Linked DNA regions of Homo sapiens: regions 2, 3, 4, 5, 6 and 7 are each linked to region 1. Evidence: fine-mapped expression QTL. A gene starts in region 1. Each other region holds a variant in brackets. All regions are shown on one strand. Distances are between the middles of the regions.

Region 1 (4,232 bases):
CCTTGGCCAAGCGGCTCAGTCCCTCCGCGTCGTGCTTCTCCTGCAGGGCGATCTGGCGGTGAATGTCCAGACATTTCTCCTCCAGCTCACGCTCTCCGCACAGGTCTGCGTGGGTGCCCACGATGCACACCACCGCGTGGGGCACTCTCGCCCCGACCCGATGCAAGAAGGAGCCCACGGTGGTAGGAAAGTGGCGAGGCTCATAGGTGGCCAAGTTGACCACCAGCACGTATAGGGCCCCTGGGGACAGGAAGAAGGGCTGGATCACCTCATAACTTTCATCCCCAGCTAAGTCATACACGATGAACCGCAGGCCCCGGGAGGCATCGGCCGTCCAGCTGGTCACCTCGATGCCCTTGCTCACAGGGGGAGGTGACGGTGGGTAGCACTTCTCCTTGTCCCCTCCTCCTGGGCATCCCTCCACTCTCTCCTCGGTGAGGCAGTGGCGCAGCAAAGTCTTTCCTGCAGCCTTATGCCCCATCAGGAGCAGCTTGAGCCGGGGCTGCACCGCCGGCTGGGAATGAGCCAGTTCCTTCTGGTAGGCTGCGATGTAGGGGATCCCCTTCATGCAGACCTCGTAGGGGGGCTGGATCAGTGGGTTGTCTTTGATCTTCCACAAACCCACCCGGGAGAGCTGGCCAAAGTGGTCGGGCAGCACCGCGATCTGGTTCCCCTGCAGCACGAGCTCCTCCAGGCCGGTCAGCTCCACGATGGAGTCCGGCAGGTAGCGGATGCGGTTATTATCCAGCCACAAGGTGAGAAGCCGGCCCAGGCCCGAGATAAGGGATGGCACCGAGGTGAGCTGGTTGCGACTAAGGTAGAGCTCCTCCAGACCAGCCAGGGGCAGCAGCGCGGCAGGGAACTCCTCGAAGAGGTTGGAGGAGAGGTTGAGCATTTTGAGCCGCTGCAGGCAGCTGAACTGGGCGGGCAGAGCCTGCAGCCCGTTGTTGTCTAGCATGAGGCTCTCCAAACTGGCCAGCTCGCAGAAGCCGGCGGGCAGCGTGCCAAGCTCGGCCCCACTCAGCCAGAGGATCTTGAGGGCACGCAGGGCACTGATATCCTCAGGCAGGCCCCGCAGCCGGTTGCTGGACACGTCCAGCTCCTCCAGGGCCACCAGCTGCAGCAGCTGCCGGGGGAAGGCAGTGAGCTGGTTGTGATCCACGTCCAGGGTGCGCAGGCGGGAGAGGCAGGAGAGGGAGTCAGGCAGGTGCGCCAGCCGGTTAAAGCTGACATCCAGCTCCTCCAGGTGAGCGAGAGCGCCCAGCTGGGCGGGCAGGGCGGGCAGCTGGTTGTGGCTGAGGTTGAGCTTCCGCAGCTCCCTCAGAGCACTCACCACCTCCGCGCCCAGGGCGGTCAGCCGGTTGTGGCTCACGTCCAGCTCGGTGAGGTGGTGGCCGAGCTCGGCCACCGCCGGGGGCAGCCGGGCGAAGCGGTTCCTGCGCAGGACCAGGACGCGCAGGCTGCCCAGCGCCGACCCCAGCCCCTCGGGTACCTCCTCCAGGCCGTTGTTCCCCAGGTTCAGTGCCTCAATGTCCCCGAGGTTGGCCGGCAGCACGAGCTGGGGGGAGGCGGGGGACTCGAGCGCGTCGGCCCCGGCCCCGGGGCAGGCCCCGGCGGCGGTAAGCGTGAGCTGGCGCAGGTTGCTCCGCAGCTTCCTGGCACGCAGGGCGGCGTCCCGCCACAGCCTCGCGGTCTTCAGGTTGCCACTGTCCATCCCAGCCATGGCGGGGCCCCGGGCCGACAGCCTCACGCGGACGCGGGAGCCCGCAGCTACATGCCGCGCCGCGCCCCGGGCCCTCCGGCTCCTGCCCCTGCCTGCCCTCCCGCGCTCGGCGGCCGGCGGCCGCGGGTCCTAGCGCAGCCAGCGGCCGAGCGCTGGCGGCTAGGGGGCGGCGGCGACGCGAGCGGCTCCGGGGGACGCCGAGCGCGTGGAGAGCAGCTTGCATTCTCCCTGCGGCCGGGCCATGGGCGCGCCGGGCAGCAGGGCCGCCGCCCGCGCGCCGCGGAGGATGCCTGCTCCTCCTCCCTCTCCGCCCGCCGCGCGGCGCCTCGGGGGGCCCGGCTCCGGCCCCGCTACCCTCGCAGCCGCGGTCCCGCGGCCGGCAGCGGCGTCGCCTCCTCGAGCTCCTGGGGGAGGGCGGCGCTCGGCCCGGCGGCGGGCATGCTGCGGGCGCAGGGCTGGGGCGCAGCCGCGGGGAGGGGGCGGCGGCGCCTCCTTGTCTCCGTTTCCCCGGGCTCGGGCGGGAGCGCGGGCGCCGCGTCCCCGGCGCTGGGAGGGCGCGATTGGGAAGCGGCAGCGCCGCCCGCCGGAGCGGCCCCCACGTGACCGGCGGAGGCGCCGCGTTTTCCCGGCACCGCCCCGGGGGCGGGAGCTGCGGAGGGCGCCGGGTGCGGGGCCGGGGGCGCCTGGCGCGGGGCCGGGTCCGCGCCCCGGACCATGCTGGGCGGGGAGGTCGTCCCAGCGGCGGATGTGGGGCTCCGGGGCCCCCCTGGTGGGTTCGCCCGCGCCTGGCTCTTTGTTGGCCCCCAGTCTCTAAGGATTTCTTTTTCTTGTTCTCTAATGCGTCGGATCCGCCGGCTTCCCTTACTCATCCTTTACCTGCTCCCCTGCCGCTCGCCTTGCATCCACGCCGTAGTGGAACTGGCACAACTCGGGGGCCCTGGGTATCATCATAGAAGCTTAGGACAAGAGTGTGGTTAAACAAAATTAGAACAGGCAACCATTCATTCATTTGGTAAATATTTCCTGAGGCCCTATTTCGTGTTGAACATGGGACAGGAGTAATGCAGGCTGGTCAGAGGAGAATAAAAAATACCAGGCAGCAGTTTCACTTGACTGGAGGCTATGGGCTGATAAGACCCTGAAAACCAGGGTGTGTACCAAGCTGGCTAAGACCGGCTGGACCCGACGTGGTCCTGGATTTGACCTAGGTTTCTCCTAGGCCTCCATTATACGCTCTTTAACATCCTAAGTCACACCAGTGCCATGACAATTCCGGGGACACCCATATTTGAAGTAAAAATGGGTGGCACCACAGTCCCGAAAAATCTCCACACTTTTCCAGGAATTTTCATGAATATTTCACCCCTTGGTTAAAGAAACCCATAAAGGTAGCAGCCCCAAGCCCCGTTGTGAGTGACCCTCTCCACAATCCCTTTTCCTGGGTGTGTACTTTTCCCTTTGCAATAAATCTGCATATTGTCACTATTTTCTGAGTTGTCCTTGAACTCATTCTCTGGATGTGTCAAGAGCCTGGACATTGGCTGGGGTCAAGGTCGCACTGGCTTTAGAGGATCTCCCCCAGCCCACCCGTACCAGAACTACTAAAAGACGGTTTTAACCCCCCTGGGGAAGGCTTTTGAGCAGGTGGCCCGCCAGCCTAAAGGAGGGTTGTTAAGATGGGGGGGACACAAGCTGTTTATCTGGGGTATCCCGTTTATCTTCACAACAACGCTGTGAAACAAATACTGTATCCCCATTAATACAGTACCTGTTGTTCTGCGGACTCAAGAAAACAGCTATTTTGGGAAACAGTCACAGTCCATTGTTCAACTCTAATGCTTATTTTTATTGCTGTTAGGAAATGTTTCTTTGAGCTCACATCTATGCTAAGTCAATAATTTCTCCCGAACTTATGAAAGTCTGGAAACCTACCAAGACTCCCAGTGTCACCTCCATCATTCCCTTCAGGTTGATTGATAAGGAAGCAAATAGTTTTCAGGGACCGAAAACTGCGTTCAGTTGGTTAAAGGCATCACTTGACCCACTGCAGCTCTCCCCGACATGCGCTATGGCTGTCATTTGGGGACCCATATTTGGTGCAGTAACGTGAGAAGTGTGTGTTTCCAAAAAGAGCACCTGAACATCTGAGGCTGGAAATCCACCCCAGTGATGGTTATCAGGCTGCAGGTAGTACATGCTGTAACTGGAGGATGTTCCCCAGTTCTGCTGGGTCCCTGAGGCTCTGACACCACAGATGAAATGTGAGTAAGTGAACAGCAAGAGCTGATCTGTGTTCACTCTGAAGGACTTCCGAGAGTTCAGATGGCTCAGGGTAGCCCCACCCACACTCCCTCCCAGAGACAGTCAATTTTACAACAAATATTCTGAGTTATCTAGGCTGACCCTTTTTTTCCCCCACAGAGGAGGAAATGGGCTCAAAGTAAGTGACTTCTCAATCAGCCATCAAAGTAGAGTAGAGGCAGGACTGCTAACTCCCCGTGTGGAATGT
Region 2 (4,232 bases), 28 kb before region 1:
TTTCAAGTTAATTTGTGTATATAGTACAAGGAATGACTCAAGGTTCATTTTTATTAATACAATTATCTGATTGTTTTGGCACCACTTGAAAATATTCTTTCCTCACTGAATTATATTTGTACCTTTGTCCATAATCAATTGGGCATGTATGTGTGGGTCTATTCTGTTCCATCAATCTATCTGTTTATACTTACGCCAATACTACACTGTCTTAATTACTATAGCCGGAAAGTAAGCACTGAAATCAGGCAGTGTAACTTAGAATACAGTACTGATTTTTAAATAATTTAATAACTGTGGGACAATTCACCCCCAATGGATATATCACAGGACCTCAAACTGATGCTGTTACTCCCTCCATTCCTTTTTCCTGTGTAAATTAACAGTGGCTCCTTGCACACATGCCAGTGGGACTTCAAAGGCCTCCATGTATTTCCTGCCTAGATGGAGCATAAAGAATTCCTGCCCAGTTGACCTCATCCAGAATGGACTGTTACCTATATTTATTACCACGTATGATCTTTTCTTGTTCCACTGGCCATAACCCCTTGCACCCGTGGTCTCTAGTCCTTAGATTTTTCCAGACCATATCATTAAAATGTTTCTAACCTCTGTTTTGACCATCTGATTCCTACCTATTTGGACTTCCTCAGAGAATCATTTCCCTAACATACTGGTCCTTAACCCAGACCATGGCCTGTTTTCACTAAGAGTCTGGCCCTTACCTGTAACTGAAACCCACCCCATCATCTCACAGAACTAATCTATTAATATGCAGTTTCTAATGAGCTTAGAAATTGACCCACCCTGTCTTAAAACTTAAGAAAGTTGCATTTGTTTTATCTGAATTCCTTTCTCAGAAAACCAACCATCAGGGCTCCCAGATATCAAGGAGCTGAAACTCACCAGATCACTGCATTTGGACAAGGAGACACCAGACCCTTCACCCATTATGGCTGCCTCAGTGACCACCAGCTTCCTGTTGACCAACTCCTCTTCCTTATACCTTCCTAATTCCTGTTTACCGGCATGTAGTTACATTGCCTTCCCACTATATAAGCCCCCAATTTTAGTTGGTCAGGGAGATGGATTTGAGACTGAGCTCCCATCTCCATGGCTGCAGTACCCGATTAAAGCCTTCTTCCCTGGCAACACTTGTCTCAGCAGTGATTGGCTTTCTGTGCGGCAAGCAGCAGGACCTAAACCAAATCTCTGGTGTTCTGGTAACATAAACACAGAAGGGTAAGTTAAAAAAACAAAGCCATTTTCTGCCCCTATGCTCAACCAAATCTGCTGCTACTGGCCATGAGGGCCGCCCACTGCACGATTCAAGGATGCCATTCACACCAAGCAACAAAATGGCCCTGCCCGACTCCTCCTCCTCTTTGCCCACCCTCCCACATTAGTAGAAACAATGTCTTCCTATCAGAATCACCAAGTAAAAATATTTTTAATGTTCCTTGGACCAAATTCATATCCTAAATATTCTTATGTTAACCTTGATGTGTTTCAGACAAGTCAAAATGCAATCTACAAATAACTGTTTCAGTGAGATCACTTTTTATTTCTCCTAAAATCCTCATATATTTACATCATCTTACAGAACCACAATGAGCATAAAATTAGCTACTCTCTTCCTATCATTTGTACCAGCTACCCACCAGACACTTTTGAAATGTATCATGTAAACTGAATTTTCCAGTTGCATGCCAGGATAAAAGTCCTTGAACTTGGGGTCACTTGGCAGTCATTTTATCTTTAAACTCACACCTACAGGCACTAGGGAAAAAAGGAAAGGGAAGGAGAGAGGGAGAGAGAGAGGACTCAGATAAGATGATATCATAAAGTTATATAACATGGTGCCGAAATTGTCTCATCCAAAAAATTACTTGAGATTTCTTTTGGCTTTAGGTATGAACCACATATTAGTTACTAGAAAGGGTATCTAGTTTCCACCTAGATTAAAAAACAAACCAAAAACATGTTTCAGGCCAGGTCTGGTGGCTCATGCC[G/A]GTAATCCCAGCACTTGAGGAGGGCAAGGTGGGTGGATCACTTGAGGTCAGCAGTTCAAGACCAGCCTGGCCAACATGGTGAAACCCCATTTCTACTAAAAATACAAAAAGTTAGCTGGGCACGGTGGCATGCACCTGTAATCCCAGTCACTCAGGAGGCCGAGGCAGGAGAATCGCTCGAACCCAGGAGCTGGAGGTTGCAGTAAGCCAAGATTGTGCCACTGCACTCAACCCTGGATGACAGAGTGAGACTCCATCTCAAAAAAAAAAAAAAAAAAAAAAAAGAAATGTTTCACTGTCAAGATGACAGGCTGAGAAATTATTTCCCCATAAAAACCTAGCTCCACTTAGTTTAAGAAACAAAACTCAAAAGGCAAAAATCAGAAACTCCTGGATACAAAAATCAGAAATGGGAAAAGAGACACAAGGTACAGAGGATGGAGAGGAAGGAGACTAGGAGTTACTACCCTAACTCGATGAAAGCTAAACACAACCAAGGACCCCTCCCAGGACAGCCCTGGTGAAGTGGAATCACATAGAAAAGCAACAGATGACACTTGACATGAATTACTGTCCAGAAAACTTCATTTTAGAAAATGGCTGTTAAGTACAATTGTATATCACTCAACTGTCAAATCCTAGTCTACTCAAGGTGAGGCTCCTATAACTTCTTTGAAATTTCTAGTAATTATTATCTGAACTGAGTTGCCACTATTAAACCAGGCAGCCACTTAGTCCAACTATTTTTGGGTCCCAAATTTAACACTTAGTGTCTTAGAAGAATTTAATTTTCATAGTCCAAAAAGGTCAGAAGCCTGGTTGATGTAAAACAAGTGGTGTCTATTATTTCTCTCAGGAAGGCAGAAAAACTAGGGCAGGGATTACTGCAGCTACAGAATGACTGTCCTCCACACCTCTCCTTGTTCAGGCGGCTTGGCCTACTCTCCTGACAGTGCAGCCACGGAAAAAGTGCCAAAGCATGCCAACCTCAAACAGAGGTGATGACAGAGAAGCTGAAATCCTGGTTTCCCTGGGGATTTGGCTGGCCAATTTTTAGAAAGCTCTACTCCTAGCTGAAGTGCTTTTATTATTCTCTTTTTCTAAGCAGGAAGAATACAGAAGAACAGGGCCTGGGAACCTAGGAGCACTTCTCTTTACCATTGGTTCAGTAAAATCAGTGTCATTTTGCCTGCGAAAAGCTCTCTAACTGATCCCTGTTTTATCAGACGATAAAACTCTGACGCTGAATGGGAACCTAGAACAGGGATCTATGGCAACTTAGCAAGGATCACTTCTTTTTTGTTTTTTTTTTTTTCTTTTTTGAGACAGGGTCTTACTGTCCTCTAGGCTGGAGTACGGTGGCGTAATCTCAGCTCACCGTAGCCTCTGCCGCCCTGGCTCAAACAATCCTCCCACCTCAGCCTCCCCAACGGCTGCAACTACAGGCATGCACCACCACGCCCAGCTAATTTTTTATTTTTTGTAGAAATGGGGTTTTGCCATGTTGCCCAGGCTGGTCTTCAACTCCTGGGCTCAAGCGATCCTCCCACCTCAACCTCTCAAAGTTTTGGGATTACAGGCATGAGCCACTGCAGTCAGCCAGTAAGGATCACTCTTATCCCTAGTAAAAAGGATCCGTGATACAAAATGGCCACTGAGTCCCTTCTCTCTCCCCAGTCTCTTACACATTCTCATAAACAGTGATTGACTCACTTATTTTCTGCAGAAGACAGAATGGCATGAATGGGACGGAAACGGTTCATATGACTACTTGGATATCTCTCATCCTGTGAACCAGTCTAACAAGCAATTACCTTGAGGAATCTGAAAATAAAATCGTGATATGAATTCATGAATCAGGAAAGAACCGTGTACTTGCATAATTAGCCTTCTTTAGAGAATGGGGAAATACATATCTGATACAAGACAATTTTTAAGGTGTAATCCCATCATTTGCAAGTCACTAAGAATAAATGTGAAGGTGACAGTGGGAAAAAAAAGAAAGAGAAAGAGAGATGGGTTGGTATGATCTATTTTTAGCTTACAGTTCAGCTACACATAATATATTAACAAAATTTCTGATACTGCTAAGGTGCATTAATATAGATTAAAGGAAACAAGATAATAAAGGAGATGGACTGAGCTCTTCAAGTCTGTACTAGTAGGAAATGGAATTAAACACAGGCTGTGGGGTTTTATGAAAGTCACAATGGTCATCAG
Region 3 (4,232 bases), 83 kb before region 1:
ACTGTAGACGCTCCCCTGGGAACCCTCCTCTGCCCAGTGTCCCCACGCTGTAAACGCTCCCCACCTGCTCATCACTTAGGCACTTTCTCGGTTATCAGATCCACTGTCAAAGTGTTGCAGTGCTTAATACGTCACCCTTATTTTACTTCATAATGGCCCGAAAGTGTAAGAGTAGTGATGCTGGCGATTTGGATCTGCCAAAGAGAAGCTGTTAAGTGCTTTAGTAAAAAGCTGAAAGGTCTTGACTTAATAAGGAAAGAAAAAAAATTGCATGCTGAAATTACCAGATCTACAGTGAGAATGAATATTCTGTGAAACTGTGAAAAAGGAAAAATAAATCCATGCTAGTTTTGCTGCTACACCTCAAACTGCAAAAGGTATGGTTACAGCACCTGCTAAGTGCTTAGTTAAGATGAAAAAGACATTACATTTGTGGGCAAAAGATATGACCGGAAACGTTTTCCAATTGATGGCAATTGGGTTTGGTGCCATTGGTGGTTTCAGGATCCAGTAGGGTACTTGGAAAGCATCCCCCGCAAATAAGGGTTGGAGGAATGACTCTATAGCAAGGGTGCCCAACGCCAGGGCCATGGACTGGTACGCGTCCATGGGCAGCACAGAGGGAGGTGAGTGGTAGGTGAGCAGGCAAAGCTTCATCTGTTTACAGCCACTCCCCATTGCTCAAATTACCACCGGAGCTCCATCTCCTGTCAGATCAGGGCAGCATGAGATTCTCATAAGAGTGGGCAAACCCTACTGTGAACTTGTATGTGAGGGATCTAGGTTGCGCGCTCCTTGTAAGAATCTAATGCTTAATGATTTGTCACTCCCATCACCACCAGATGGGACCAGCTAGTTGCAGGAAAACAAGCTCAGGGCTCCCACTGATTCCACATTATAGTGAGTTGTATAATTATCTCATTATCTATTACAATGTAATAATAGTAGAAATAAAGTGCACGACAAATGTAATGCACTTGAATCATCATGAAACCATCCCACCAACCCCAGTCTGTGGTGCCGAACAAGGTTGGAGACAGCTGCTCTTGGTGATATAGACATACAGTGAGATGCACACACACCCTGCCCTTTGTTGCTCTACAATGGCCCGACATGTAAGTATGTCCTTAAGAAAATGTGCACAAGGACTTACACCATCCTCTCCTCACTGACCCTAAAAAGGTCTGACACCATGTGACCCAAGTCAAAGCCGCCTCTTCCCGCCACTCACTCGTCCCACCACGCCTCCCTGCAGACGCGTGTGCCACTTGGCTCCATTTTGCTCGCTAAGGGTTTATATAAATACAAATCCACCCAAGAAAGGAAAACTATTTCCCCTTTTCCTGCTCTGGATAAAGTTCCAGCAGACTTGGCTAAGGATGAGACAAGCTTCACAGATCAAAGACAGTTGGGGAGAGGGGGAGGGGGAGGAGCAGAGCACAAACCTAGCTCAGCCCTCTCCTCTCACAAAACACAAGTCAAGATTATAAAAAGCCCACAGTGCTGCACTGAAGTGCTTTCAAAAGGTTACTCTTTATTTTGATAGCCTGTCACCTACTTCTTACTGGAAAATGGTTCCAGACTCAGAGAGGTTACTGCAGACGGCATAAAAGCATTCAGACGACAACGTTCTCTCCCCAACATTCATTTTCCTTGCAAGAGAAAATAGGACGAACCCTTATGACCTGAAATTATAAAACTAGCGCCCAAGGACCTTATCAAAATCTACCTGACTTTGAAGTACTAAGGGGAATCATGTGAAGTCCTTAATAATGATCAGAAGCCAGGCCGGGCGCAGTGGCTCGCGCCTGTAATCCCATCACTTTGGGAGGCCGAGGCGGGCAGATTGCTTGAGACCAGAAGTTCGAGACCAGCCTGGCCGACATGGTAAAACCTCATCCTACTAAAAATACAAAAATTAGCCAGGCATGGTGGTGGGCACCTGTAATCTCAACTACTCAGGAGGCTGAGGCAGGAGAATCGCTTGAACCTGGGAGGTGGAGGTTGCAGTGAGCCTAGATCATGCCACTGTACTCCAGTATGGGCGGCAAAGCAAGACCGTCTTGGGAAAAAACAAATGATCAGAAGGCGTATACAGTCAACTCCTGAACAACAAAGGTTTGAACCATGCAGGTCCATTTACAGGAAATTTTCTTCCACTTCTGCCACCTCCTGAGAGAGCAAGTCCAACCCCTCCTCTTCCTCCTCCTCAGCTCACTCAATACGAAGACGATGATGAAGATCTTTATGACAATCCACTTCCACTGAACAGTAAATACATTTTCTCTTCCTATGATTTTCTAAACATTTTCTTTCCCCTAGCTTAGTTTATCGTAAGAGCACAGTATATAATACATAAAACATACGAAATACATGCTGATGAACTACTGATGTTATCCGTTAAGGCTTCCAGTCAACAATAGGCTATCAGTAGTTAAGGAGTCAAATGTTATATGTGGATGTGATTCCATGGGAGGGGGCTGGTCAGTGCCCCTAAACCCCGAGTTGTTCAA[G/C]GGTCAAGTGTACTTGCTTCTTGTCTCCTAACATTTCTGCAGATTCATTTTTCTCCAAGGAAGGGGAGGAAGGAGAAGGAGTGAAGGTTGGGACTGGGAGGTCTGGTAGAGCTGAGGCCTCCCTGAAGAGTCCTGGGAGAGAGGAGAAAACCCACAGGCTTGCAATCGGACCCACAGCACCTCAAGGCCAGAAGGAACCTTGAAATGGCTCAACTTTCTCCTTTTGCTCATGAATAATATCTCGCGCAGGCAGAAACATCTCCCACAGCACTACAGGGAGAGGATTCCAGCTGGAATCCTCTCTCAACACCAGCTTTTCTTTATCTACTCCCCTACCCAAGTGTCATCCGCAGAATAAAATCCAGCCGGGACTTGAGGCCATTTGAAACCCACAGCATCTATGATGACGGGAAAAGCACTAAATTGCACAACTAATTTAAACCCAGCACTGCCAAGCCTCTTCAACCTCTGAAAAATTATAATTGCAAACCAGAATAAAAATTTTTTTTTTTTTGAGATAGGGTCTTGCGCTGTCACCCAGGCTGGAGTACAGTGGCGCAATCATAGCTCACTGCAGTCTCAGCATCCCAAGTAAATGGGACCACAGGCACACACCATCATACCTCATTTTTTTATTTTTATTTTTTGTAGAGATGAGGTCTCGCCATGTTGCCCAGCCTGGTCTCAGACTCATGGTCTCAAGTGATCCTCCCACTTCAGCCTCCTAAAGTGCTGGGATTACCGGCGTGAGCCGCCATGCCTGGCCAAGGCCAGGGTTATTCTCCTTTGGGTAACTAACGTCCACCTGACGCATACTAGCTGATGCTGCGTCTCCTCTGCAGGGACGTAAGCTCCACAAGAGTGGGATTTTCCTTACTCACTGTGGGATCCCAAGCATCCAGAACAATGTCAGGCACACGGCAGGCCCTAGATATATGTTAAAGAACGAAACTCATCCATCCCCGAATCCATAAGTTGGGGCATAAACACGGAGGTCTCTCAAGTGCCCTCAAGCGTGTGGTTCTGAATCCGACACTGGTGGGGCACAGGGTTAGGCTGCGGGGGCCAGAGTCCACACCCTCTTCTTCCACAGGGTACACAAGTCACCACCTAGGAAGCTTCCAGACTTCCCTGGGCAGTACTACCTTCTCCGCATGCCATCCAAGGGCAAACAAAAAACCCCAAAACCAGAAGCACTCCAGGAAGTGGTCACCCTGCTTTGCTGTCTTACCAGATTACTGGATCTTTTTCAAACTAAAGAGAAAACCACAACAAAGTCAAGTTCCATGTGCGGCGACTCCAATGCCAACCTCTTAGAATATTTTCTCAATTTTGAGGATTACATGGCTCGGAGAAGCCCGTAAGTGTAGTGCAAAATGTCCTCTTCTGAATCGTAGTTGCAAATGGCTTCCTTTGAGGGGGAAAGGGCAGAGATACGAAGAATCATTTAGTGGTTCAGGGGTGTGGGGTAGGGGGAGACTGAAGCCGGCGTAAGATCTTAGCATCCCCCTTTTTGTCCTCCAGTCTTGGTTACTTACACGGGCTGGTCAGTACGCTGCTGGGTCCCAGGGTGGTGGGCACATCTCTGGAGATCTTTCTTTCTGCAATTCTCTCCTCTGGGTCGGCTATCTAGGCCACCCTCCTGGCACCACAGCCTGGAAACTCTCAAGACAGTAAGCTGGGGCAATGACAGGGCTTGCCTCCTTCATTTCTCATAGC
Region 4 (4,157 bases), 21 kb before region 1:
GGTCCCTCTGACTCCATTCTTACTCCATTGAAATCCATCTTCCACACTGCTGCCCTGAGTGTGCTGACAAAATGGAAATTTGACATTTCCCCATTTGACCCTTCAGTATTTTCCTCTCACCCTCTGAAAAAAACCATCAGGCTTTAATTTAGCTTAACACCCAGATGCCAGAAGTTCCTTCTGGTGAAAAAGTGTTAGCTAGTGAATAGATAGGCTAAAAGTTATTTACACGGGATATGTACAGTGGTTCAACCTGTAATCCCAGCACTTCGGGAGGACAAGATGCACAGATCACTTAAGCACAGGAGTTCAAGACCAGCCTAGGCAACATAGTGAGACCCTGTCTCTACAAAAAAAAAAAAAAAAAAAAAAAAATTAGCCAGACATGGTGGCACGCACCTACAGTCTCAGCTAACTCGGGAGGCTGCAGTGGAAGGATAGCTTGAGCCCAGGAAGTTGAGGCTGTGGTAAGCTGAAATCGCGCCACCTCACTCCAGCCTAAATGACAGAGCAAGACTCTGTCTCCCAGGAAAACAAAAAAGGTTTAAAAAGAAAACAAAAATATTTACAGACGTGCATTGATAAATGAATAGTTGGGCTGCCAGTAATTTGTACAGCCCATCACACGTCAGGGGCCCTGGTTTTACAGAAAGTCCCTACGACTCACCTCCCCTGGAGACCTCCCATCCATCTAACCACCCCACACACACACACGTGGATCAAGACAGATTCCATCCCGCAGGCCTCTCCGAGCCCCTGGAGATCTTTTTCTCCTGGAATTTATTACACAGCCCTGCAAATCTCTGCTTACTGTCCACACTGCTTCCCTGGACTGCAGCTTCCCGGGGTCAAGGCCTTGCTCCCCTCCCATGCCCCATGCTCTGCCCCATGGCTGGTCACTGCCAATCCCCAGCAAATGTTTATAGTCCAGTACTGCAATGTTAAAAGCAACCATGTGCATTTCACACAAGGAGTCCTTACTTTTTTTCTTTTTTTGGTGACAGGAGCGTCACTCTGTTGCCCAGGCTGGAGTGCAATGGTGCAATCTCAGCTCATTGCAACCTCTGCCTCCGGGGGTTATTCTGCTTTTCATTCAAATAACTACCCATTTTTAATGGGTGACAAGCTATTGCCTTCCTGAGAAGCAGCACAGGGTGACAGCAAAGACCATAGGTTCCTGAGGACAACCTGGGCTCTGCTACATGCTGTGTGCCCCTGGCCATATGACTTAGCCCTCCTCTGTCTCCACTCCTCATCTGTAAACCAGGATGATGGTAATCAGAGCTAATGTTTACTGAGCCCTTATTATATGGTAAAAACTACTTGCAGCTGGGCGTGATGGCTCACACCTGTAATCCCAGCACTCTGGGAGGCCGAGGGGGCTGGATCACTTGAGGTCGGGAGTTTGAGACCACCCTCGCCAACTTGGTGAAACCCAGTTTCTACTAAAAATACAAAAATTAGCTGGGCATGGTGGCACATGCCTGTAATCCCTGCTACTCATGACAATGAGGCACAAGAATCATTTGAACCAGGGAGGTGGAGGTTGCAGTGAGCCAAGATCACTCCACTGCACTCCAGCCTGGGCAACAGAGTGATCACAAACACGCAAACAAAGAAAAAACTACTTGGGGACTTGACATCTATTCATTCATTTCCCCCTCACAACATCTAAGGAGACTCTGATAGCAGGTGTAAATGCTTGGGAACTGTTAGAATTATTTTTACCTATTTACAGACGAAATTGAGGCCCAGGGAGGCCAAGTGGCTTCCCAGAGGTCCAGGCCCCCGACTTCCTAATCCACTGATTTAATTACATCCAAGGCTCAGATGCATGGGCTCAGATGTATGAATGGCATTCAAGAAGTGCCTGGGAGAGGTTAACATACTGCTGATAAAAGATGCAAGGCCTCTTTCTCTAATGCTGGTTTAATATAAAGCAAGTAAGCTGCATGGCAATATTCATCTCTAGCTACAGCTAAGGTGACACTTGTTCTGTCACCCTACCTAGGAAACCGTATCAACTCCCTGAGATGAAAATCTGCCCCATTCCAGAAATGAGCTAAATCAAAGGAGGGAGAAGGAAGGAAGAGGAGGCTAAGGCAAAAAGTTATTCACACTTTGCATAAACATGCCCGGATGGCAAGCATTATAAAACGATCTGTGTAACATAAGCTTCTGGGTCCATGGGAGGCAAGGGAGCATGTGACTGTGCACGGATATGAACAAAGCCAGCGACACACCACCAGATTCTTCAAAAGCAAATATTTGTCTATGACCAAAGAATCGGGATTCTTTTCTAACAAAGAGGAATGTACACCGTTCTAATTCCTGATTCTTCCTCCTGCTTTACAGTGGGTTATGATCTCGATGGAAATCCCCCCATGAATAAATGTGTCTGCAATCACAAATGGCCCCATAAATCAGAAGATTTATGAACTGTAAAAGG[G/A]GACGGCAGGAGGATTCCAACCTTGCAGCTTCCTTCATGCGGACCACCTGGGGCCGGATGCATGGCAGTTTATCACTTCCTGGAAACAGTCATCTGGCTTTTCTTTTTAGCTAAGCAAGAAAATGTTATCAGCCCTGGTAATCAACAAGATGCAATCATCCCTGCTATTTGGGTAAGCTTTTAATGCCGCACCACATTACACAGAGGAGGCTCAGATGCATAGGCTCGGATGCATGAACAGCATTCAAGAAGTGTCTGGGAGAGGTTAACACACAGCTGATAAGCTCTGGCTGGCTGCAGTGAGGCCTGGCCCAACAGCCCCTAAGGCAAATTCCTGAAGGGACTAAATAGAAAATGAGTGGATATTCCCTATTCCAAGGGAAAAAATAAAAATAAAAAAAAAGATGGGAACAATACAGTAACCAGGGAAAAGCACAGAGCATGCACATGTGTGTTTTTCTTGGGGAGGGGGAAATGCATATATTTCAGAGGCTTAACAAATACATTCAAAAGAACACCTGCTCCATCCCAGACAGGCAGCAGAACATCGTGCAAGAGTGAGACGGAGACAACCGGGCAGTGCCACTCGTGAGCCATCTGGGAGTGAGGGGTGTCAGGGAAGGGGACAGATGCACCCTACAGGGCTTTGCATCCCAGTTCTTATTACTGTACCTTGGGCACAAAACAGCCCAGCTCTAGGCAAGCCAGTGAGCCATTTTTGGTATCATAGTGTTCTTTTGGAAAATTCACATTTCTATTTTTAGTTCTTCCACATGCAATTCATAAGCAATAGCCCTCCGGAATCAAAGTCACCTCAGCTATGCCATGAGTCAAGAGAATCCCAGTGAATATATTTTTTAATAGCATGTTCAGGGAAAATGTGACCAGCTCTGTTCGGCCATACTGTCTGCATTGACTTGGCAGTTAGCATGAAATGAAGGATTTTAAAGACCAAACACTTCAATGAGTCCTGTGAAAAAAACTCCCAAGAACCTGACTGGGGACTTTGTTAGCTTGAAATAAATATATACGTCATTAAGTATGTTTTAAACACAGAAGCAACTATAACAGGATTTAATTGCTTACTTTTTTTTTTTTTTTTTACAGGTCAAACACATTTTAGAGTGCTGGGTTACACCCACTCTTTCTTCATCACATGTACAGAAAGGCAAAGAGTGTGGGTAATCTCTTAAATTTTAAATTCCCACTTGGTATGAGGATAAAACATCCAAGAAACATTTCCTGTGCAGAACACACCAAGCTTAGGTGTAGAAAATACAACGGTGTGGAACTCGAGAGGATGGTTCTAGGATACAAATAAAAACAACCACGCAGCGCGGGAAGATTTTTGTTTAGAAAACAGATGGGACAGAAAGGCAGATGCAATGTTTTGAGTCAATGAGATACAGTTCGTTCTTAATTATATTTCATTGATTTCTTACATGGACAGAACATCATTCTTGCTGCCACTGTTTTATTTTGATCAGCGGTATATCTATCTGTAAACATGTACAATTTGTAATTATTGCTATGTCTAAACACTGCATCACGTGTAATGGCTGAATTAAGCTGTGAAATGCGTAATTATGCTGAAAACAATGGTGTTCCAATACACATCACCAAAGCCAATTTAAAAAAATTACCTTGTTTCAAATCACAAAGCGAAGCCTTCATAACCCTCGAGGCTTTTTTTAGGTCCCACCACTTT
Region 5 (4,232 bases), 39 kb before region 1:
CTAGCTTGGCTGACATCAGAACAGAGTCCGGTAAACAGTTTCTTATATTAGGCTATCATTGTTGTTAGCCCCGATGAGTCAAATTTACATTCTGGGAGAAGGGTATGAGCCCTCACTTCTACATACTTAAAGTCAGAAGTGATTGCATTTCCATAAGAACATTTATACCCGGATGTATTTCAGAGTCCTACTTTGTGGCTGGGAAGGTGGCCTAAAAAACCCAATATCACCCAAAGGAAGCAGGAGGTCCTGATTCTGTTCTCAGCAGCAACTGCCTGGCTCAGTCCGTGTGTCTGCTCTCAAGACCCCGACTATGCCCCTGCAGGCTCCATTTCTCCTACTACACAAACAAGGCTCTTGCCACCCACTCAGGCTTATTTACTTGCACTGTGTACATATACACCGACTCACACACACACTCACATACCCCCCAAAAAAAATGGAGGCTTAAAATACCCCATTTTGTCACAGTTTGCTCGGAAGCTACTCCCTCTAGTTCAACAGGCGGCAAGCTCCTGTCCTACCTGCCCCTTTCTACCTTTTGGGAATAAAAAGGAGCAACCAGAAATAGCAGAGAAAGCGGAAGGGAACCAGGATCTGACTCGTAATTACAGTTCCATAAACCCAGACAACTATTTTTGTTAGTTAACCTGGACAATCGCACAAGGTGTCTGCTCATTCTTAAAAAAAAAAAAAAAAAAAAAAAACCACACACAACTTAGATTGCTAGTGCCTGGCACGTACAAGGCAAACAGTGTGGGTACAACCATTAGGTCAGGTCCTAGCTACGTATATATATTTGAGATGGAGTCTTGTTCTGTCGCCCAGGCTGGAGTGCAATGGCGCAATCTCAGCTCACTGCAAACTCCGCCTCCAGGGTTCAAGCGATTCTCCTGTCTCAGCCTCCTGAGTAGCTGAGATTACAGCTATGCGCCACCACTCCTGGCAAATTTTGTGTTTTTAGTAGAGACAGGGTTTCACTATGTTGGGCAGGCTAGTCTCGAACTCCTGACCTCAAGTGATCCCCCTACTTCGGCCTCCCAAAGTACTAGGAGCCACCACCCCTGGCTTAGCTACCTATTTCTATTGTCAAGGTTATCCAACTGTTGTAGGTTAAATGGTCCATACTCACTAACACACTGGTGAAGGTGGATAATTACTATTTCCAATTCCCATGTTGCATTCCATAAAAGACACCAACCAACTCCATGAACACCTTGATTTGTCTTAGTTGTGTTCACATTATTAAATTACACTGATTTAGGAGCAAAAAATCCTTTGTAAGTCATGGGCATTGTATAAGGTTGCCCAATTTACAAAACAAAAATATACGCTGGGTGTGGTGGCTCACAGCTGTAATCCCAGCACTCTAGGAGGCCAAGGTGGCAGGATGACTTGAGGTCAGGAGTTCAAGACCAGCCTGGCCAACATGGTGAAACCCCGTGTCTACTAAAAACATAAAAATTAGGCCAGGTGCAGTGGCTCACGCCTGTAATCCCAGCACTTTGGGAGGTCAAGAAGAGGTCAGGAGATCAAGACCATCCTGGCTAACACAGTGAAACCCCGTCTCTACTAAAAATACAAAAAATCAGCCAGGCTTGGTGGTGGGCGCCTACAGTCCCAGCTACTCCGGAGGCTGAGGCAGGATAATGGAGTGAACCCGGGAGGCCGTACTTGCAGTGAGCTGAGATCGCACCACTGCACTCCAGCCTGGGCAACAGAGCGAGACTCTGTCTCAAAAAAAAAAAAAAATTAGCCAGGTGAGGTGGTGCATGCCTCTAGTCCCAGCAACTCAGGAGGCCGAGGTATGAGAATTGCTTGAACCTTGGAGGTGGAGGTTGCAGTGAGCCAAGATTGCACCACTGCACTCCAGCCTGGATGACAGAGGGGGACTTTGTCTCAAAAAAAAAAAAAGGAAGAAAGAAAAAAATATGTATTATGACTAAATCAGAACATCACATGGAACATATTTACACTAAAAATTATTCGTTGCTTACGTGAAATTCAGATGTAAGAATAGATGTATACATGAGACCCACCCATAAGCAACACTTTATTGTTTATCTGAAATTCAAATTTAACTGGCTATCCTGTTTTTTTGGTTTTGGGTTTTTGGGGTTTTGTTTGTTTGTTTCTTTGTTTTTGATACAGGATCTCACTCTATACCCCACGCTGGAGTGCAGTGATACTATCACAGCTCACTGCAGCCTCCATCTCCTGGGCTCAAGTGATTCTCCCATCTCAGCCTGTCAAGAAGCTGGGACCACAGTCGTGGTCCTCCCTCAGTATATATGGGGGGTTTGGTTCTAGGGCCCCCACCCCCAGCATACCAAAATTATTTTTTATTTCTTGTTGAGAGAGGTCTCGCCATGTCGCCCAGGCTGGTCTCGAACTCCTGGGCTCAGGGGATCCACCCGCCT[C/T]GGCCTCCCAAAGTGCTGGGATCACAGGCGTGAGCCACCACACTCAGCCGACATCCTGTATTTTATCTGGCAATCTTAACATTGTATTAGGACAAGCGGAAAACAGATGAATTAAGACATGGCATCTTACCACAGGAGCTCATTGTCTGGTGAAAGAGCCAGACCTGAACTAGAATCATACAATGGAGGATTGGAGGCGCTTTCCAAGCGCTTTCAAGAACACAGGGAAGGAGCAATTAAATCCTAACTGAGATGCACACTAATGTCTCCATCCTGCACAATGAAAATGAACGTTATAGAATTTATTCTATCATTCTATATATCCCACAGATTCTTTAATCCTGATTCATGAACTCGCTACAGTGTTTTCAGCCAGGCACGGTGGCTCACACCTGTAATCCTGGCGCTTTGGTAGGCCGAGGCGGGTGGATTACTTGAGGTCAGAAGTTCAAGACCAGCCTGGCCAACATGGCAAAACCTACTCTCTACTAAAAATACAAAATTTAGCCAGGCATGGTGGCAGGCACCTGTAATCCCAGCTACTTGGGAGGCTGAGACAGGAGAAGCACTTGAACCTGGGAGGCTGAGGTTGCAGTGAGCCGAGATCACGCCACTGCACTCCAGCTTCGGCAACAGAGTGAGACGCCGTCTCAAAAAAGAAAAAAACAAAAAATTATGCTTTCTGCCGTTATTTTCATCTGAAGCAAGTTACTGACAAGGTAATGTGAAGGGGGTTATAAAACACTGGCCATAACAGATTCAGAAACACAGATGAGAAAAGATGCTCAGTTATTTCAATGCCAAATAAGCCTCCTCACTTTTGTGCTTTGAAAGCGAGCGGGGACTGAATGTTTACCTGTTTCAGAACTACAGTTTAGAAGACGGTCTTCCCCATGTCTGCTGAGATGAGGGATTCCCCATGAACTCCTCACATGCACAGCTCTGAAAGTAAGATCTGGGGCCCTTATTTGGAAAACAAACTCCCTAGATCTTTTTGCTCCAGCAGCCAAAGGAGCTGGGCATGGTACAAGAGTCACTGGTCAGGTGGGGTCAAGCCAGGACAGTGCTGGAGAGATCTGTCCCGAGCTCACTCGAGTGTCTTTCTCATGGCACTGGGGCAAGCATGACCTGCACAGCCTGGCACAGAAACAGCACTTGCCCAGAAGATACTTCCCCGTATTTCAAGATCAAACAAAGTAGGACGCAGAAAAGAAAAGAAGCAAGGGAGGTAAGGGATGGTGTGTACATATTTCCTGTTGGAATTCCTCTGGAGTATAAAAAAGAGGGCCTGACAATTGCCAAACATATCAGGTGAGGCTTTGGGATCCACTGGTGGGAAACACTGAATATATTTAATATCCAAGACAATAATTCAAAGACTCTAAATTGGGAAATTAGCTTAATAGTATTTTACTTGCAAGGTCCTACATTTCAATATTAAAAATACTGACACATTAAAAAATGAAATTGGTCTTTTATTCCTAGCCTATTCATCTTTGCATCTTTCCCAGCACAGAGCATCCCCATGGCACTCAGCAGACCCCCATGATGTCTGGTCAATTAATGAGTTAATGGATGGTTTCAAGCCCATGAGCCAGATTCCTGTCACCGGCATGTATCAGTTTATTGCTGCACACGGGAAACCTTGCAGCCACAGGGCTTTGTTTATACACTGCCCTAGAAGCCACTAGGATTCTCTAGATCAGAAAGAGAAATATATTCTAGTTCTCATCTTTCAAACTGGCTCAAAACCTGACACTTTCACATCAGGAAAGTGAAAAAAAAAAAAAAAAAAAAAAAAAAAAGAGGAGA
Region 6 (4,232 bases), 120 kb before region 1:
TCCTCCTGCCTCAGCCTCCCAAGTAGCTGGGACTACAGGCCCATGCCACTGTTCCTGGCTAATTTTTGTATTTTTATTAGATATGGGTTTTTGCCATGTTGCCTAGACTGGTCTCGAACTCCTGGGCTTAAACGATCCACCCACATCGGCCTCCCAAAGTTCTCCCACAGGCATGAGCCACTGCACCTAGTCATCTTTAAAAGCTTCTATGGTGCTTCAGACTTGCTCAGGCAAATCACCTGGTCTCTCCCACGGGTTGCATTAATCAGTGGGATCACATTAGACCAGGAGTCCCGGACTGTCTAGTTTGATTATATTATGCAGACTTTCACATACCACTGTCATAATTTTTACCATATCTTCACATTTTTTCTACATCTGTGTATCAACTGCACTTATTAAAACTTTTTCTAATACACTTTTAAGTATTTCTTTCTAAATGCATTCATTTTTAAAACAAATGTTTTATCACTCATGCAAAAAGCCAATTAATAAATATAATGAAAACAAAAATTAAACATTCTAGCTACACACTGTTAAAGGCTCTGAACTTGAGGCCTGCTTTCTCTGTATAAAGAGAGCTATGCGGCCAGGTGCAGCGGCTCATGCCTGTAATCCCAACACTTTGGGAGGCGGAGGTGGCTGGATCACGAGGTCAGGAGGTCGAGACCATCCTGGCTAACACGGTGAAACCCCGGCTCTACTGAAAGTACAAAAAATTAGCAAGGTGTGATGGCGGGTGCTTGTAGTCCCAGCTACTCCGGAGGCTGAGGCAGGAGAATGGCATGAACCCGAGAGGCGGAGCTCACAGTGAGCTGAGACCACGCCACTGCACTCCGGCCTGGGAGACAGAGCGAGACTCCGTCTCAAAAAAAAAAAAAGAGAGAGCTATGCAATAGAACAATTGTATTTGATTAGTGCTGTCATAAGCACTTTATACATGGTATCTCATTTAACATTTATAACAATTGTATGAGGTAGATTGTTTCCCCATTTTACACAAGAGGAAACTGAGTGATAGTGGGTCCATGTCCCCACTCAAATCTCATGTCAAATTGTAGTACCCAAGGTTGGAGGTGGGTTCTGGTGGGTGGTGACTGGATCATGGGGGTGGATTTCCCCTTTGGTGCTGTTCTTGCGATAGTGAGTGAGTTATTTCGAGATCTGGCTGTTTAGGTATGTAGCCCCATGCCACCCCCACCCCTCCCTGCCCCACCCACTTCTTCCTACTCCAGCCCTAAGACGTGCCTGGTTCCCTTTCACCTTCTGCCATGATTGAAAGTTTCATGAGGTCTCAGAAGCCATCGTGCTTCCTGTACAGCCTGCAAAACTATGAGCCAATTAAACTTTTCTTTATAAATTACCCAGTCTTAAGTATTTCTTTTCATCTTTCTTTTTTTTTTTTTTCAGATGGAGTCTCGCTCTGTCACCCACACTGGAGTGCAGTGGCATGATCCCAGCTCACTGCAACCTCTGCCTCCCAGGTTCCAGCGATTCCCCCACCTCAGCCTCCTGAGTAGCTGGGATCACAGCTACCTACCATCATGCCCAGCTAATTTTTGTATTTTTGTAGAGACGGGGTTTCACCATGTTGGCCAGGCTGGTCTTGAACTCCTGACCTCAGGCAATCCACCCACCTTGACCTCCCAAAGTGCTGGGATTACAGCCGTAAGCCACTGTGCCCAGCCAAGTATTTCTTTATAGCAGTGTGAGAACGGACTAATACTCTGAGGGACAAGAAAGAATAAATGGCAGAGGCAGCAGATCAAGCAGCATTAACATAAGCAACTCCATCTTAGAAAAAGACTCCATCTTACATTTTAAAAGCCATCATGCCGACAGGGACCAGATGTTCACCTAATCAATAGACACTGCACCCAGCCAGATAAGGACAAAACCAGGCGCACTTTTCCACTATCAGGCCTCACCAAACGACTCTGGAGAGCAGGACTTCGCCAGCTCAAAACGCCCATCTTAACAGACACTGTCTTGCTGTCACTTGTGATAAGCACCTGGCATCCACCTCTGAAGTCTGTGCCCACATAAAAGACTCTTCCTTGCAAGACCTTGCAGGAAATTCTTTTTGTCTATATTGCTCTTCCTGGACTGGTTAACTCTTTCCCTCATCCCTTTTCTCTTGATTTTTTTTTTTTTGAGAC[G/A]GAGTCTCACTCTGCCACCCAGGCTGGAGGGCAGTGGCACCATCTCGGCTCACTGCAACCTCTGGCTCTCAGGTTCAAGCAATTCTCCAGCTTCAGCCTCCAAAGGAGCTGGGATTACAGATGCACACCACCACACCTGGCTAATTTTTGTATTTTTAGTAGAGATAGGGTTTTACTACGTTGGCCAGGCTGCTCTCTAACCCGTCACCTCAAGCGACCTGCCCGCCTCGGCCTCCCAAAGTGCTAGCATTACAGATATGATTCACTGCACCTGGCCTCTCTTGATGTAAAATTTACTTTATTTGATGTGGAATGTTTAATCTATAACATTTATATATCGATTAAGCATACCACACCATGTATGGTTTGCAATGCTGACTGACTTGTGGAACGGTTTGAGCCTCACACCTCTGACTACTGACTGAATGGGTAATAGTAAGGAGAGTCGCCTCCTTGGTAATTCTAGGTAGCTCGTGGCTTCTGTGACTGAAATAGCATCAACAAAAGTCTGACATTGTGGAAAGACACAAATATGTGTGGATCTGGTTATCTGACCTTGAGACGCTCAGGATAGCCAGGATTCAAATGGAGGCAGTCTGGAGTCAGTGCACCTAGCTGCCTCCTACATAATGCAAAAGACAAGTGATTCTCTATGATTTGATGCCATCTGTGCCTCAATTACAAACGCCTGAGACTGCATTGGAGTACATGGCCCTACTTTGGAAAAACTGGTCTGGGGGGATGTCCAGACAGCTCTGGGGAGAGGCGTCTTCCTTCCACGCTCAGATACACATGGAAATGCTGCACATTCTCTCAGCTTTTGGGGATTCACCTTTTGTATTGGTATCTAAATGGTTCTCAGAGTCCTGCAGCAAACACTGTCTTAAGCTTTCTTTTTCTTCTTTAGAGACAGGGTCTCATTCTGTTGCCCAGGCTGGAGTGCAGTGGTGTGATCATGGCTCACTGCAGCCTCGACCTACTGGGGTCAAGTGAGCCTCTTGCTTCAGCCTCCTGAGTAGCTGGGGCATGTGCCACCACACCGGCCTTTTTTTTTTTTTTTTTTTTTTTTTTGTAGAAATGAGGTCTCACTGTGTTGCTCAGACTGGCCTCAAACTCCTGAGGTCAAGCAATCCTCCCACCTCAGCTTCCTGAGTAGCTGGGACTACAAGTATGCCACCACGCCTGGCTGATTTAAAAAAAAATTCTTTTTGGTAGAGATGGGGATCTCACTATGTTGCCCAGTTTGGTCTCAAACTCTTGACTTCAAGCAATCCTCCTTCCTTGGCCTTCCAAAGTGGTGGAGTTACAGGCATGAGCCACTATGCCCAGCCTCTTTTAAGCTTTCTTTAATGCAGCATTTCTTATTGGATCTCAGAATCATTTTAAAGGGGAGCCTGTATTTGTACCTCAGGAGACGCAAATGTTCCATTAAGCAGTCTGAATCCTTCTCAGCATTTAGAATAAAATTCATTTCATTAAAAAATATTCCTAGTTTTTAAAGATGAAGAAAGTATTGCTTCCCTGAAAGAGGTTACAAATATTCAAATAGGGTTTCTGTTACCTGGTGAAATTTCTCATGCCGTCGAACACAGATCACTTCAGAAGGTCATCTGCTTTCTAACACCCCTTCCAGTCCTTCCACACCCGCTTCTGACTTGGCAGCAGGAGCAGCATTTCCACCAGGTGATGGCCTTTGTCACTGCCAGTTCCACTGGGGGGCACCAGCAGCCATGGGCAAAGGAAGCCCTGGGCATTTGAATTTGGCACAGAAGCTGCCACCATGTGTCAGGCACTCTGTGTTCAAAGAGTGAAAGGAAAATAGAATCTCAGGATCCCAAACTCAGGATGGCAAAGGGAAACTTCAGCATGGGAACTGAGTCACGCAAAAACTGCTGTTCCTTCTGTTCCCAGACAGCTGTAATTTCACAACCTCATGTCACAGCCTCATTTCCTCTACTCCCTCTTTAAACGTTAACTTTATCTTGTGTAAAATGTAGATTTACTGAGCTTATCTTGTGTAAAATGTAGATTTACTAAGCTGGAGACAATGAATAATTGTTTTTTTCCTCTACT
Region 7 (4,232 bases), 330 kb after region 1:
GCACAGTCTTGGTGTGTTTGAGGGATGGAAAGTGGACCAGAGAGGCTCTAGGGTAGAGAATAGGTGGTGCATGCTAGGAGGTTTGGGTGGAGAGGCGGGGTGCCATGGGAAAACGGGAAGCCACTGAAGGTCATTTAGCAGCAAGTCATGGGGTCTCAGAGTCATCTCTGACAAATCAAGCTACTGTCATAAATAAGAATAAACGGGGTGGGGGAGCAGGAGCCCAAGTGAATCTTGTGGTTCCAGACAAGAGATGATGGCAGCCTGGACCAGGATTTTAAAGACCTTGAAAACTCAGACAGAGAAAGAGTGAGTTCAGTAAAGAACACTCACTCTTTCTCTGTCTTCCTCTCTAGCTCATCTCTCTGCCTGCATGAGCTCATGACTAGTCCTGGGATTTTAGGTCAATCTCTGTGCCCAAATGCATATTTCAATCCCTGCTTTTTCCACCAAGCTCCAAATTAGTGTTTGACAAACTACAGCCCAACTGTGGCCTGGCATCCATTTCCGTATGGCCCAAAAGCTAAGAAAGGTCTTTATACTTTTAAAAGATAGGGAAAAAATCAAAGAAGAGTGTATAACAGGGACTCTATGATCCCAAAAGAAAAAGTTTGATTACTTCTAGTCTAGACTCATATATAGCTCAAGTATAATGTGTCCCAACCAAAACTTTTGATGTCCCCCTGCCAAAATTTTTTCCTGCCTCACTCTTCTCCATTTCAGTAAATGGCATTTCTATGTGCCAGCTGCCTAAATTTAAAAATCTAGAAGTCAGACATTGATCCTATCTTGTATATTTTTTACTCAACCTATCAGCCCATTCTCTGGTTCCCCTCTGACATACGCTCTGCATCAGGTCACTGCTCACCACTTCCACTGTTAAAAGAACACTGAAGTTAGAGAATACTGGGGAGGGGGTGTGCATTATTCAAATTTTATTATGCAAGGCAACAAACAGTCCCTGTAGCTCAGTGCCTTCTGAGAAAAAAGGTCTATTTCTCACTCAAGTTACATGGTGGCTGCAGTCCTACTGTCAGTCTATTCTACATCTTCCTTCCAGACCCAGACTGAAAGATACACGCCCATCAGAGCAGCCTGCAGGGGAGGCCAAAGAGAGATGGTAGAACCAGGCAAGGACCCTAAAATATTCTCCCGGAATGCAGCATCTGTCACTTGCATTCACTTTCCATGATCAATCTGGTGGTTGAGGGGATGGGTAATTCTCTCACAGGGATACACCGTGAATCTTTGGGAACAAGAATACAACTATCACAAAGAATGTGGTGTTAAGGAAATCTACAGCACCTAATAATTCAAGAAATGGGATGTGGTCAGCTAGATCAAATGCCATTTAGAAGTTGAGTAAGATGAGATCAGAGCAGTGACAACTAGGGTTGGAAATATAGAGGTCTTTTGTTTAGTCAATAAGTCATTCTTCTAGGCTAGCCATATTAATGTGTACTTTCTGTGCTGGATGCCAATAGTAACAATACTGTTGTCAGCCTGCCTCTGTAAGAACAATCTCACCACTTCTGTACTCTGAAAATGGAGCTGATTCAGGATTGGTGACTTGTGGGCCCAATAATCCAATGTATTTAGCAACAAATTTAGAAGGAAACCTGATTTTTTATTTTTCCAATTGTAATTATGTGCATTCTTGGAGAGGAATCTGTGGCTACACAAACAGCAATGATTATAGCTTCTGACCAAATTAATTTAAAGGGTTTTCCAAAGAGGCATTGAACAGTAAGTTTGCACTTTGAGGAAGATTCTCTACACACCTTTTTTTTTTCCTATTAGTCAGATTTTCTGGGTCAACCCTAACACTTCCCCCAGATCTACCTCTTTCTTTGAGAGGAATGCGTGCACAAGTTTGCAAAGTCGGGTGTGGGGACTGTGCTGGTGAAGCAATAGCAATGGTGTTGAGCCGAAATGTGGATTCCCTGGGTGTTTTTCTCCTCTGTCTGCCCGGGGACGACTGCAGAAGTCATTTTGATATTTGGCAAGATACCTGAAAAACGTGAAATTTCTCCATGTGATCTGTATTTACTTTGACATTTTAAAAGAATTGTTCTTTTAAAATATAAATCCTAAATCTTTGATTTTTCTTTTTAAGTTTAGAATAT[C/T]GAAGTTGGTAAGTTGGTTTCTAAACATTTTTTTTATGTTTTGAGATAGGGTCTCATTCTGTTGCCCAGGGTGAGTGTAGTGGTGCGATCTTGGCTCACTGCAGCCTCAACCTCCCAGGCTCAAGCAACTCTCCCACCTCTGTCTCCCAGGTAGCTGGGACTACAGGCATGCACAACCATGCCTGGCTGATTTTTGTATTTTTTGTAGAGACGAGTTTTTGCCATGTTGCCCAAGGTGGTCTTGAACTCCTGGGCTCAAACAGTCCACCTGCCTTGGCCTCCCAAAGTGCTAAGTTTACAGGCATGAGCCACCATACGCAGCTGGTAAAATCTTAAAGGTATTTGGATTCAACTTTTTTTTTTTTTTTTTTAAATGAGAATCTCTACAACCCTAATAAGCTTAGCCTCCCTCTGCTGTATCTGGAGAGCAGGGTGCTCATTGTCTTAGTACCCAGGGGACAACACCAACCTTCAACTGATGGGACTCTCTAATTTTGAGGGAATCCTTTCTCATGTTTAATTAAAACTTGCCTTCTTGTAACTTCCACTAGTAATCCATGCTAGGGATAATACAGATGTGGCATAATAAGAAATATATCTAGTCTTTGTCCCTAGTTCCTAGCACAGAGCTTCTAAAAACAAAACAAAACAAAACAAAAACCCTTGGAACTTCTTCCTGAGTGATAGGAGTGTCTTTTGTTATTTGTAATGAGAGCCCCTTTCTATCACACCTGAGTTCAGGCTAATGAGATGAACCCCCAGAGTGGGACTCCCAGATAGCTTCAGGATGGGGGCTGGTCAAACATGACGCCATTATTTGAGGGTTAGAAATTTCAGCTCTTGTCCCCAACCTATGGGGAGGAAAGAGGCAGTGGAGATTGAATTCAATCACCAATGGCCAATGAGTTAATCCATCAAGCCAACGTAATGAAACCTTCGTAAAATCTGAATGAGAGCTTCTGTGTTGGTGAACACATCCATGTGCCGGGAGGGAGGCATACCTCAACTCCAAAGAGGCAGAGGCTCTTGTGCTCAGGACATTTTTGGACCTCATCTTATGTACCTCTTCATCTGGCTGTTCATTCCCATCCTTTATAATAAAATATAGTTCCAAGTATGGCATTTTCCTGAGTTCTGAGTTGTTCTAGCAAATTAAGGAAATGTGGCGTGGGGCGAGGGCAGGTGGCGGGTGGCATGCTGCAAACCCTGGAACTTGTAGCAAAGTCAGACAAATTCAGGTGACCTGGGAACCCAGTACCTATAACTGATGTCTTAAGGGAGAGCAGTGTGTGGGACTGAGCCCCTTTAACTTGTGGGATCTGAGGCTAACTCCAGGTAGTGTCAGAATTAAACTGAATTGTTGGATACCCAGTTGATGTCCAGAGAATCAGAGATTAGGATAAATCTGCTCCACCATTTACATGAGAATCTTCTGAATATTCTTAGTCTTCTCTCTTAGGTTGCACGTCTGTAGTTCTTCAAACTCACATGGGAGGCAATTGACCATATACTCATCACTGCAATGAGCATATCAGGAGGTACCACATTGAACCAAGAATTCTGGTAAATGACATTTTCTCCCTCTCCTTACACATCCAGTGATATTGAACATCTTATAGTTTGGATCCCTGGACACCTTCATGGCAGACTCACTCCTTACTCCAGCTCTGGATCTCAACAGTTCCCTCATCCCTCTCAGCCTTCTCCCTCACTCCTCAGAAGCTAACATTTGCCAAAGTCAATCTTGAAATGTTATGTTTAAAATTCAGCTCACTTCTCTAGATATAGCCTGATGAGGACACTACGGGTACCCTAGGCAGTTAATAAATAATAGTCATTAGTTAATAATTTTAGGTTCCTTCAAATGGATATGCTCTCAATATTTGTCTAACTGTGACTTGGGGTCAAGCAAGGAAGACTGGCTCGCAGCAGCTCTGGTCCTCTTCTCTACTGCTCTAATCAGTTCAGCTCTGGCCCAGTCCTGCACACCCTACTAGCAAACGTTAGTCCTACTATAGATAACTGCACCCACCTCCTTGTAAGCCATTTAATGACTCTCAATTATAACTCAAACTGTCCTCAGAGAGCTCAGCCTTCACTGCAATG

Evidence for each region. PIP is the estimated chance that this variant, and not a neighbour inherited with it, causes the effect.
Region 2: its variant is fine-mapped to the expression of MFHAS1 in whole blood (TOPMed, PIP above 0.99).
Region 3: its variant is fine-mapped to the expression of MFHAS1 in whole blood (INTERVAL, PIP above 0.99).
Region 4: its variant is fine-mapped to the expression of MFHAS1 in whole blood (TOPMed, PIP above 0.99). The same link has a PIP of 0.9 or more in blood mononuclear cells.
Region 5: its variant is fine-mapped to the expression of MFHAS1 in whole blood (TOPMed, PIP above 0.99). The same link has a PIP of 0.9 or more in blood mononuclear cells.
Region 6: its variant is fine-mapped to the expression of MFHAS1 in T cells (TOPMed, PIP above 0.99).
Region 7: its variant is fine-mapped to the expression of MFHAS1 in skeletal muscle (GTEx, PIP 0.96).

What each region holds. Positions count from the first base shown.
Region 1 is chr8:8,891,336-8,895,567 of GRCh38, forward strand. It overlaps MFHAS1 (multifunctional ROCO family signaling regulator 1), which reads right to left and starts at 2,295. Exons shown (of 3, transcript NM_004225.3): 1 at 1-2,295. The coding sequence starts at 1,723. RefSeq lists enhancers at 1-715, 716-1,676 and silencers at 1,521-1,790, 1,901-2,180, 2,191-2,440.
Region 2 is chr8:8,863,005-8,867,236 of GRCh38, forward strand. The region is part of intron 1 of MFHAS1 (multifunctional ROCO family signaling regulator 1); the gene reads right to left. Among named protein-coding and RNA genes, the nearest start is that of MFHAS1, 29 kb to the right of the region's middle. The variant G/A (reference allele first, on the strand shown) is at 2,013.
Region 3 is chr8:8,808,299-8,812,530 of GRCh38, forward strand. All of the region lies in intron 1 of MFHAS1 (multifunctional ROCO family signaling regulator 1), which reads right to left. Among named protein-coding and RNA genes, the nearest start is that of MFHAS1, 83 kb to the right of the region's middle. The variant G/C (reference allele first, on the strand shown) is at 2,514.
Region 4 is chr8:8,869,941-8,874,097 of GRCh38, forward strand. The region is part of intron 1 of MFHAS1 (multifunctional ROCO family signaling regulator 1); the gene reads right to left. Among named protein-coding and RNA genes, the nearest start is that of MFHAS1, 22 kb to the right of the region's middle. The variant G/A (reference allele first, on the strand shown) is at 2,450.
Region 5 is chr8:8,852,784-8,857,015 of GRCh38, forward strand. The region is part of intron 1 of MFHAS1 (multifunctional ROCO family signaling regulator 1); the gene reads right to left. Among named protein-coding and RNA genes, the nearest start is that of MFHAS1, 39 kb to the right of the region's middle. The variant C/T (reference allele first, on the strand shown) is at 2,421.
Region 6 is chr8:8,775,962-8,780,193 of GRCh38, forward strand. No RefSeq gene overlaps it. Among named protein-coding and RNA genes, the nearest start is that of CLDN23, 76 kb to the left of the region's middle. The variant G/A (reference allele first, on the strand shown) is at 2,160.
Region 7 is chr8:9,218,133-9,222,364 of GRCh38, forward strand. No RefSeq gene overlaps it. Among named protein-coding and RNA genes, the nearest start is that of PPP1R3B-DT, 69 kb to the left of the region's middle. The variant C/T (reference allele first, on the strand shown) is at 2,127.